2 separate regions of the Homo sapiens genome follow, and region 1 is linked to region 2. Evidence: fine-mapped expression QTL. A gene starts in region 2. The other region holds a variant in brackets. All regions are shown on one strand. Distances are between the middles of the regions.

The links. PIP is the estimated chance that this variant, and not a neighbour inherited with it, causes the effect.
Region 1: its variant is fine-mapped to the expression of SNTG2-AS1 in whole blood (TOPMed, PIP 0.95).

What each region holds. Positions count from the first base shown.
Region 1 is chr2:1,172,565-1,177,944 of GRCh38, forward strand. It overlaps SNTG2 (syntrophin gamma 2), which reads left to right. Exons shown (of 17, transcript NM_018968.4): 8 at 528-619. Among named protein-coding and RNA genes, the nearest start is that of SNTG2-AS1, 220 kb to the left of the region's middle. The variant A/G (reference allele first, on the strand shown) is at 2,729.
Region 2 is chr2:948,856-954,235 of GRCh38, forward strand. SNTG2-AS1 (SNTG2 antisense RNA 1) reads right to left here and starts at 2,537. Exons shown (of 3, transcript NR_136151.1): 1 at 2,430-2,537; 2 at 1,056-1,531; 3 at 779-946. SNTG2 (syntrophin gamma 2) reads left to right here and starts at 1,994. Exons shown (of 17, transcript NM_018968.4): 1 at 1,994-2,213. The coding sequence starts at 2,142. RefSeq lists a silencer at 1,903-2,032.

The sequences.
Region 1 (5,380 bases), 220 kb after region 2:
TTTCTGTTTAGCAGGTGTAAGCTCTGGTTGCATGAGCCTGTATTTCCAGGGAAATTATTTTATGAGCACCTGTTTTACCTGTAATGTGCTAAGTGCTTTGAGTGTGAGCTTTTCAATATTGTCTCTGGAAAAAACCTTTTGAGTGGCCTGGTATGATCATCTCCTTTCAAAAGAGAACACTGCAATCACAGAAGGCGCCTTGTGCTGACCATTCCAGGGGGTCATGTTGACAGGGAGGGCCTGAGCTGCTGGGGGCACACCTTCCTGATGCTGTCCCTCCACCCTGGGGAGCCCTCACAGGAGCCGGCAGTGGTCCCTCCCTTCAACCTGAGGTCAGATCTTGGTGAGGAGACCATATCACAGCAGGAAAGTGAGAGGCCATTGGGGATGACCCAGCCCATAACTGGACACCAGGCATTTTGGTGCTGGTAACTTCCCATGCACAGGTAGAACTGAAGTCACTGCATGGTCACAGTGTGCTTTGTCAGTGGCACCAATTGGAAGGGACTTCTCTTGTTTTGCTGCAGGGTCCCCAGGGCCATCCAGCGACCACAGCAGTGGGGCCTCCTCTCCCCTCTTTGACAGCGGTTTGCATCTGAACGGAAACTCCAGTACCACAGTAAGCATATAGATTTTTGTTAAATTTTATTTTAACAGAAATATCAGTAGCCCAGAGATAATCTCTAGACAGAATTAAAAAGATGCTGTACTGCCCAGTGAAGATAATTGTGTTAGTTTCAGAGGAAATACTTAGAACACAGATTGAAGGTGCTGTTCTGTTGACATTTACTCCCACGTGGGACACATCCTGATTGCATTATAGGATATTTTAAGTTCATAATTCACAGCATCTCAGTGAGCAGGCAAGAATTCTTTGAGTCCTGCCTCTGACTTACATATCACCGTGACTGTAGGAAGGACTGCAGGTTATTTTTAGGAAACTTCTGTGAGACTCCCATGAATTTCTTAACAGAAAACACCTAAGGAGGTATGAACACTGTATAATGCAGTGAGTTTTAATCACATTCTAAATATCCACCCTCCCAAGAAAACCAGACTTGAGCAAAAAGGAGAACCTGCAGCTCCCTGGGACATGGGGCTCCCGCCCTCCTCCCTCAGAAGCCTGGGCTCTGAGAGAACCTGTAGCTCCCTGGGGCATGGGGCTCACACTCTCCTTCCTCAGAAGCCTGGGCTCTGAGAGAACCTGCAGCTCCCTGGGACACAGGGCTCACGCCCTCCTCTCTCAGAAGCCTGGGCTCCAACTCCCGCAGGGTGACCTGTGAGCTGCGCCCCTTGGGGAATTCATCATCCACAGAGGCATTAGTGCACGAGAAATGTAGAATCCTGTAAGCAGTTTGAAAAAATGTTTTATTATAAATCATTCCAGTCAAATCATCAAAATGACTGGATACTTCATACACAGGGAGAACCTAGAGAAAAATATTCATGTTTGTACAATCTATGTTTAAGATGTCTGACTACTCCATTTCTAACCATTTAATTGAGCTCCTGAAATTAAAAATTGCATTTAGACTCTGTGTCAGTTATGAAGCAAAATAATAAAACAAATGCCCATGAAATTGCAGTTCTAAGCAATAATTAGAATATTGTCCCTAGCTTTCCATCTGTGCAGTCTTCCATACTCCATTTTCTGGCCTGCCCAGAGATATAAGGCATCCTGAATTTTGTGTTTGTCATTTTCTTGATTGAAAAAAAGTTTTATCCATATATATATATATATATATGTAAAATTTCATTTTATTGCAAGGCTTATAAAATATTATTCTTCCATAGTCTTCTGAGATTTGCATGTTTACTTACTGTTTGTTTCTGTGAGGTTTTTTGCTGTATGATATTTCACTACAGTTTATCCATTGTCAGTTGCCTGTGGACACTTTGCCTTTGTTTTATGTTTGTTTTTCTAGTTTATCATCATTAAAAGAGGTGCAGCCATAAAGATACTTATAAATGTCTCTTGGCTATTCCATAAGGTAGAATTTCTGAGTGCTAGATTATACCAGGATGTTCTATTTTCAAAATAACAGCAAGTTTTCTACAAAAGTGGCTGTGCAGTTTATATTCACACAGCTCTGGGAAATTCCAGTTGAGCCACAGCCTCTCCAGTGCTAGGTAATTTTTGACTTAATATTTGAAGTACAGTAGCTGTAAAATGGTTCTCTCTCTGGGGCTCTATTTCATTTCCATCATTACTAATGAGTTTTGTTTACTGTTTCTATTTGTATTTTCCTTTGGTTTTTCCTCTTCTGTGAAATGCTGTTTATCTCTTTGGCACATTTACTGTTAAGGTGATCTTTTTTCTTACAAATCCATTGAAATGTTTAATATACACTTGGTAATAATATTTTGGTGGTAATGGGTTAAAAATCTCTTCCTACAGCTTATAACTTGGCTTTTTCATTTTGTTTGTGCTATCTTCTGTGGTTTTGTGGTTTTAGGATTTTGTTCAAGAAATCTTTCTTATCTTAAGTTCATAAAGACACTTCCTTATATTTTCCTCTAAATATTGTTAACGTTTGCTTTTCACATTAGATCTCTAAATCCCATGAGATCTGCTTTTATTAAAGCTGTGAAAGGTAGAGTTCCAGGTGCATTTTTATGGGTAACCAGTTGTCTCAACACTATTTCTGGGTAATCTGCACTGCCACGGCTCACAAGTAACCAGCACCATGAGCGCAGGCGTGTGCTGCTGAGACCTCTGTTGTATTCT[A/G]TTGGTCAATATCAATGGCAATATCACACTATGTAATTACTAGGTATTTATAATCAATTTGTGTCATCTGTAGGCCTTGCCCTCTTGCCACCTCCTAACTCACTCTATTTTTTCCATCCTCTCTCTTTGTTTTTTCTTGTGAATTTCAATAGCTCTTGATCCAGTTCTACAAAAAACAGTGTTGGGATTTTGACTGTAATTGCCAGATTTACTGGGGAGAATCAAACCTTTCTGACTCACCTTTCCTGCTTATGGAAAGCATATTTATTTGTGCTATCTTTGAATTAATGCTGCTCCATTTCTTTCCATATTATTTAATATTTTCCTACAGAGTCTTTTTAAAATTAATTTTACAAGAGGATTGTACAATTCCATTTGTCTGCAACACCCTGTCCCCCAAGCCAGCACAGTTCAGCAGGGAGAAACTGTCCTCCTACCCTTTCTGTGCAGTTATCCTCAGGGTTTTTCTCCCATTGTGTGGCTGTAGCTTGTTGAGTGGACTCTAAACTCTTCCTGGAAGGAGACACAGAGCATGGGGCATGATTCGGTGCCATTTCAGGAAAGGTCAGACAGTCTTTGTGGCTCTGGTAAGTGCAGTGGAAAAGTAACACGACAGTATCGTTGAAGGGAGGCTGCCTGGTTCTCCTGGTTCTCCCAGTTCTCCTGGTTCTCCCAGCTCTCCTGGTTCTTCAGGCTTTGGTGGATGTGATCCTCATGTCAAGGAGTAATTGTGGAATTATGGAGGGGACATGGGTAGAGTGACTAGCCTAATGCTTGGAATATGTCATCTTCAGACATCCTCATCCTCCTTATCAGCAAGAGAAAGAGAAAAAGAAGTGCTAACCTTAAAATTCTTTGTAGTTATTCATATGGTTAGCTCAGCTCCAGAATAAAGCATCATCAGGTTATTTAAACTCATTACAGGGAATCTGAATTGCAGAGTTTAAAAATAGCTTTAATATGTTCGTTTTAGAAGGCTATCAAGACTCAATATTGAGACCTACCTGAGGGTGAAGGGTGGGAGGAGGGAGAGGATCAGAAAAAATAACTATTGAGTATTAGGATTAATACCTGGGTAAAGAAATAACCTGTATAACAAGCCCCCATAACACAAGTTTACCTATATAACAAACCTGCACATGTACCCCTGAACCTAAAATAAAGTTTGTTTTTATTTTAAATAAAAACTTAAACAAAAGTTGACAAATGGGATCTAATTAAAGAGCTTCTGCACAGCAAAAACAACTATCATCAGAGTGAACAGGCAAGTTACAAAGTGGGAGACAATTTTTGCAATCTATCTGTCTGACAAAGGTCTAATATCCAGAATCTACAAGGAACTAAAACAAATTTACAAGAAAAAAAAAAACATTAAATGTGGGCAAAGGACACGAACAGATACTTCTCAAAAGAAGACATTCATGTGGCCAACAAGCAGATGAAGAAAGGCTCATCATCACTGATCCCCAGAGAAATGCAAATCAAAACCACAATGAGATACCATCTCAGGCCAGTCAGAATGGTGATCATTAAAAAGTCAGATGATGTCGAGGTTGCAGAGAAATAGGAACACTTTTTCACTGTTGGTGGGAATGTAAATTCATTCAACCATTGTGGAAGACGGTGTGGTGATTCCTCAAAGGTCTAGAACCAGAAATACCATTTGACTTAGCAATCCTATTACTGGGTATATACCCAAAGGAATGCAAATTATTCTATTACAATAATACATGCATGTGTATATTAATTGCAGCACTATTCACAATTGTAAACACATAGATCAACCCAAATGCCCATCAATGATAGACTTGATAAAGGAAATGTGGTAGAGATACACCATGGAATACTATGCAGCCATAAAAAGGAGCAAGACTATGTCCTTTGCAGGGACATGGATGAAGCTGGAAGCCATTATCCTCAGCAAAATAAGGCAGGAACAGAAAAGCAAACACCACATATTCTCACTTATAAGTGGGAACTGAACTATGAGAACACATGGAGGGGAACAGCACACACTGGGGCCCGGCAAGGGGTGGGGGCCATGGTGGGAGGGAGAGCATCAAGAAAAAATAGCTAATGGATGCTGGGCTTAATACCTAGGTGATGGGTTGATAGGTGCAGCAAACCACCATGGCACACGTTTACCAATGTAACAAACCTGCACATCCTGCAGATGTACTCTGGAACTTAAAAATAAAAATTAAAAAAAAAAAACTTTAAAAGGAACCAGAAGTTAAAAAGAAAATGATAGTAAAATTGACAACTTCTTTCTCAACAAAAACAAGAGAAGCTAGAGGAAATGAAATGACACCTTTGAAGTATGAAAAAGAAATTAATTCCTGTTTAAAATTCTATAATACCCAGCAAACGTGCTTCAAAAGAAAAAAATAATATATTTTCTGACAAAAAAGAGATAATTATTTCCAGTAGACCAGCACTTTAAATTTATTTTTTTTGAAAAGGAAACTAAGCATACCCACATAGCCCTTAAAGTTGACATGCACTTCTTGAGGTGATAAAAGGTTATTGGCACACTGCTGAATGAAAACAACATTTAAATAATTTCTTTTATATTAATTTGTCATAAAAGATTAGCAGTGATTGCATCTGTTGTTAAATATGAGATAATTTTTATATTAGCCAGACTACTGT
Region 2 (5,380 bases):
TTTATTGTTATTGTTATTGCAGTAGAACCCTAGTATTTAAAATAAGCAAAATAACCCTTACGTGCAGTCCTGACACAGATGCATAAAAGCAGATAGGCAGTTAAAACTTGAATTAATTAGCCTTTCAAAAGCAGCCCCAGAGCGCCTACGACGTCCTGGAATCACAAAATTTTATTATAGAAAGGATTCCAGAGATTGTTAGCCAAAACTACATTATTTTACAAATGAATTAACAATTACCTTTGGTCTGAAAAACAAAAATATATGTGTCTATTCATTTAACGATAAAATTTTAACAAAAACTTGTCTCTCAAAGTCAACATTTATGCATGCAACACGCTGTTTTTCCTTCTTCAGGCCCTGGAATAGAATGTCCCTTTGCAAGGTAATGAGACAATATCTTTGTGCTATTTGTAGACATTTAATTTCTCAGAGATTATATGCACGCTCTTTTAAAAATGCAATTTAAAGGCAAACAATAATCTCTTGTACTTTTTCTTATTCTAGGTTTTGCTACAAATAAAAAGTAATACAATATTTTTTACCAATTCACCCAAGAAGCATATTTTGTAACAGCCACTGTGCCACGTATAAAAAGACCTGGTTTTTGCTATTCAAGAGCTTGTCCTCTGGTTAAACTGAGTGCTAAGAAGTGCTGGCAGACTGCCGTGAAGGTGAAACAGGAATACAGAGAATAGAGAAATGGGGAAGGGCGTCTGTGTTCGAAACCCAGGTCTGCTCAGGGGTCAAGCAAGTCGGAGTCAGAAAAAGTAAAGTGTTTAACATCGAGTTTTCAATATTTATTTGTTTACAATGCGTCACATTCTGCTCCTAGATAGGGTTAACCTCTGAAGACCTCAGATTTCGCTGCTTTTCCTTGCCGTGGAGAGGGAATAAAACGGGCATCGTGGCCTCCGCGATGGGCGCTCGTGCCTGGGTCGAAGGACTGGGGGGCGGAGGATTTGGAAAGGGAGAAAAATACGGGCTGGCTTCTTTTTAAAAAATGTGGGTAGCCTTGCCTGCCCCCGCCGCACTGGAATTTATCCTAAACTTACTTTCATTTACATTAAAACAAGACGATTTGAGTCTACCAAACCCAATACTGCATCTGTGAGGCTCCTTTTGGCACAAACCTGAATGAACAGCGGGAAACGCCGTCTCCCCTGGCGTCTGAGATCTGGGGTCCCCTCCCCACCTGGTCTCCTCGCTCCCGCCCCAGCCCCGTGCGCCCCAGGAGGGCACCGCCGAGCGCCGGGTCCCCGCAGGGTTCGGGAGACTCCGCGGACCGGAGGAGGGATAGGACCCCCGAGCTTTGGGGGCGGGAAGGGAGGGTGGAAGGAGGAGGGGAGCGGGGTTGGGGAAAGTTGGAGCTTCGGTATCTTTTCTCCGGGCCAGGCCGTCCTCGGGGCCCTGCGCTGCGTCTCCAAGTGCTGGGAAGACTCCGCGGGGAAAGGTCTGAGGACGCGGCCGGCTGGCACAGGTGTGGCGGCTTCAGAGGGCCGGGGAGAACCCATGGCTTCGAGGCTGTGGACTAGAAATGTCCCTGATTAGAAGCTGAGAACCTTTGGCCAGGGAGGTGGGGCGGCGGGGAGGGGTCGTCAAGCCGGTCCAGAGCGCGCCCACCTGCGCCACAAGGGAGAAGAGGTGCCCCCCGCCCCCCTCCGCCCACCGCCGCCACGATGCGCCGCGGACCTCGGCGACCCAGCCCGGGTAGAAGCGCGCGCTCCCCTCCTCCAGCCTCGTGCGCCGGCCCCTGCCCCGCCAGCCCCGCTATGGTCCCCCATCCACCCCCGCGGGAGCGCCCCTGTCCCCCCATCCTGCACTTCCCCCAGAGTCGCGCGCCAGTTTCCCGCCCCGTGGAAGCGCCCCTCTCCCGACTTCGGCTGATCCCCGCTCGCCGCCCTCCCCGCGGGTGCGCGCCCGGCCCCTCCCTCGCCCGGGGCGGGTCTGCGTGGGCGGTGCTCCGGGTCGGCGGGCGGAGCTCCGGTTCCCCAGCCCTGCGCCCCGGTGGAGCCCGAGCCGGAGCCGGCAGAGGGGCGCGGGCGCGGACGCGGCGCCTGGCGGGGCCCTGGGAGGCTCGGACGGGGTCCTGGCGTTGAGCTCGGCCGGCCCGGAGCGCGGACCCAGCCGCAGGGGCGGCGATGGGCACCGAGGGACCCCCGCCCCCGGCCGCCTCCCGCGGACGCCAGGGCTGCCTGCTGGTACCTGCGCGGGTGAGTGCGGCCCCTCAGCGCCCCTTCACCTCCGGCCCCCCTTCCCTCTCCTTCGCGCCCTTCTCCCCCCGCCCCTCCTCCCTCCACGCCCCCTCGCTCCCCGCGACCCCTTCCCTGTCTCCGGGGACGGCTGGCCGGAGGGTGGGCGCCGGAGCCCCGGGACGCAGTGGGCACCCGCCCCCTGGCCGCTCTGCTCCCTCCAGCCCAGTGTCTTACTGGAAACTTGCAGGCTTTGCTCCTCCAGCGTCTTCCAAGGTTTGGTTTTGAGGCGCCCGGGCTTCCCTTTACTGCGTGGGAAGTAGTGCTTTCCAGAATTTGGGATTTGAGATTGGCCCGGCATTGCTTCCCAGGAGCGGCTCTTTCGGGCCCAGGCGGTGGCTCGGACCGGAGCGTCCCCCCTGCAGCCTTCGGGCGCCCAGGCCAGGTCTGAGTTGGCCAGTTTGAGCCCAGCCAGGTGCATGGCGCGGCCTCGGCAGGTGCTGGGGGCTCTAGGCCATTCGGGGAACCGCTGGGACGCCAACTGGGTAATACGGATTTCTTTTTTGAAGTCTATTCTGGTTCCCACCCTAAATAACTCCCTCTTCACCTTCTTATTTTTAAATAACTAAACTATTGATTGACAGAAAACAGAAATGTTGGCCCAAAGAAAAACGAAAAGTTCTTGGAAACCTTCAAGTTGCCACCCACAGCACAGCCTCGAGTTGTGAAAACAGTTTAAGGGAGCACGTGGCCACCCCAGCCCTAGGAGGCTGCCGAGAAGCGCGGCTGTTAATGAAAATGCATTGACAACCACTCCTTTAGGATTCCTTCCCCAGGAGCTCCCAGTCCCAGGAGCGACCAGGAATACAGTTAGCCCTCCCTTATAGGACAGTGGAGAGACGGTTCAGAAGGCCACGGGTTGAGGGCTGCTACAAATTCCTATCGTCATAATAATGATTCTAAACTAGGACTGTGGTCGTCGCTACTGTGATGTTAAAAAGATTTCTATGTAGAGACAGGTGCATCTTCATTCAAGTAGCACCTTTCTGGGCTTTTACTACAAAATATGAAAATTAAATTTCATGTAAAATGTGGGTGTTCGTTTCTTGAAGTACTTTGTAATATGAATAGCTATCCCACTGTTGCCCATGGTAATCAAACCCGAGAAAATATGCGGGGATTACCTGGAAATAAACCGCAGTAAAAACTGCAGGCGCTGTGGAATCACAGGCTTTCCGTCTGGTCACTGCCTTCAGCTTTATAATGATGCCCTCCCACGGTTAGGGATTGTGCATTTTTCTCCAGACATTCGAGCAAAGCAATTCTTGCTTTTAATCATTGTAATTATAGCGGAAGCGTTGAAGTGGATTCATCATACTTCATGATTGACCCACTTGATGAGTTATTGGCAATAACGTCAACAAATAAAGCAACTGCGCGTATTCTAGTAAATGCTCTCCTTTGCGCTCAGTATTAATTAAGGTGCTAAATTTGATGTTTTCCAGTCAAGAGTGGCCTCTGCTCACCTGTTTGCTACAAGATGTGATTGGCGCTTTCTTTCTAATAAGGACCTTGATTATTTGAAACAGCCTGTCTGAATTGTATTGAAAGAAACTTTTTTTTTAGCGTTGGAGGCCAAGTATTACAATAAGATGGAGCATTTTAAGAGCAAGACTCCTAACTTTGCAGTCATAAGTAATTAGGTATGTGCTAAGCCTACCTTAGACACCAGTGCATGGTCATGTTAGCTCAGATTCTTATGTATTTAAAACGAATCTGTTAAGTATTGGTGTTGGCAGGTTTGTCTTGAAAACATGAATGTTCTTAGTATACAATGTCATCCTTACTTAATGGCAGAATTATTTTCTTACCATAACTGCACAATATTATTCAACTTGTGTAATTATTTAATCATTTCAGTTAAGAGAACTTGGTGCTTTTAACTAGAAAAAGATGAAAGTCTTTTCTAAATCTTATATTTCTAGTTATATTTTTTCTATCTGAAGTCAAAACTATACACATTCTTTATCATGACTGCTTGTTTGAATCATGGAATTTGGCCACGTTTGAAGGTCTCCTGTTCGGTAACAGACCTGTTTTGTTTCCCCTTTCAAGTGCCTGTTCCCGATGTTTTTTTCTAAGTTAAGTGAGTTCATGGAGCTCTGTCTCTGACCATACCTGGATTTGAGGGGTAAAATCCCACTGGCAGACAACCTCAGTACAATGTGCGAAGTGTGTCTTGCTTGTAGCTTCAAAGACTACTATTGGTTGATGTTTACAGCACATTTGCTGCTTTTAAATGACAACACTTCTTCAGTCTGGGGCGCTGGAAGAATTATTGGCATGAGCCGGGAACATGCCCATTTATGTGATGAGCTTGCCCACTGAAGGGGGAAAGCACGTTAGGTCATTTTAAAGGTGCATGTGGGGTAAGGGCACCACCTAATCATCTGTTTACAGATGTGAATTGCTGCATGAGATGAATGAAGCATCTGAGCTCCTAAGAAGGTTCCCCATTCCTTCTATGCTTTGGTTATGTTTCTCATCCTTGCTGACTCATCTTTAATTTCAACTGTAGAATTTCTATTGACGTCTATGACATCATAAGCAAAATCCATGCATTACAAAGCAGGCAGTTACCTGACTTTACCAGGAGACATGGAGACATGTTCCCCAGTAAATATTTGAATGAGGTCCAATTAAGAAAAGTGTGCCTTGTTTTTGTTTTTGTTTTTTTCCAACATGGGATGTTAAAATTGCCTTGTTTTCTGAATGGTGTATGTGGAGCAACAGCTTCTTGTCTCTGGATATCTTTATGGATGATGACTGTAGACAAGGCATTTAAGCTTCAGTTTTAATTTAGATCTGCTTCTCAAGATACCCCATGAGGCTCTGAGTGAGTTGGCAGAGGGGCTGGCATTGCAGTTCTCGGTGACAGAGGGTGTGTTTGCATCGCAGGCCTCCTATTTACTAAATGGGTATATTCAGGATAGACTTACTAAGCAGTGTGATTTTCTGGCTTTCCTGTTAGCTCATGTAGCATGTGACAGCAGGCACACGAGGGACCCCAAAGAGGAGCTGCTCTCAGGCTCTGCTGCGCACCCCTAGCTCCTGCGCTGCTGGGCATGGGGCGGACACAGGCAGGTGCTCGTGGAAATGGAGAAGGAAGGAGGGAGATCAGGGTTCCA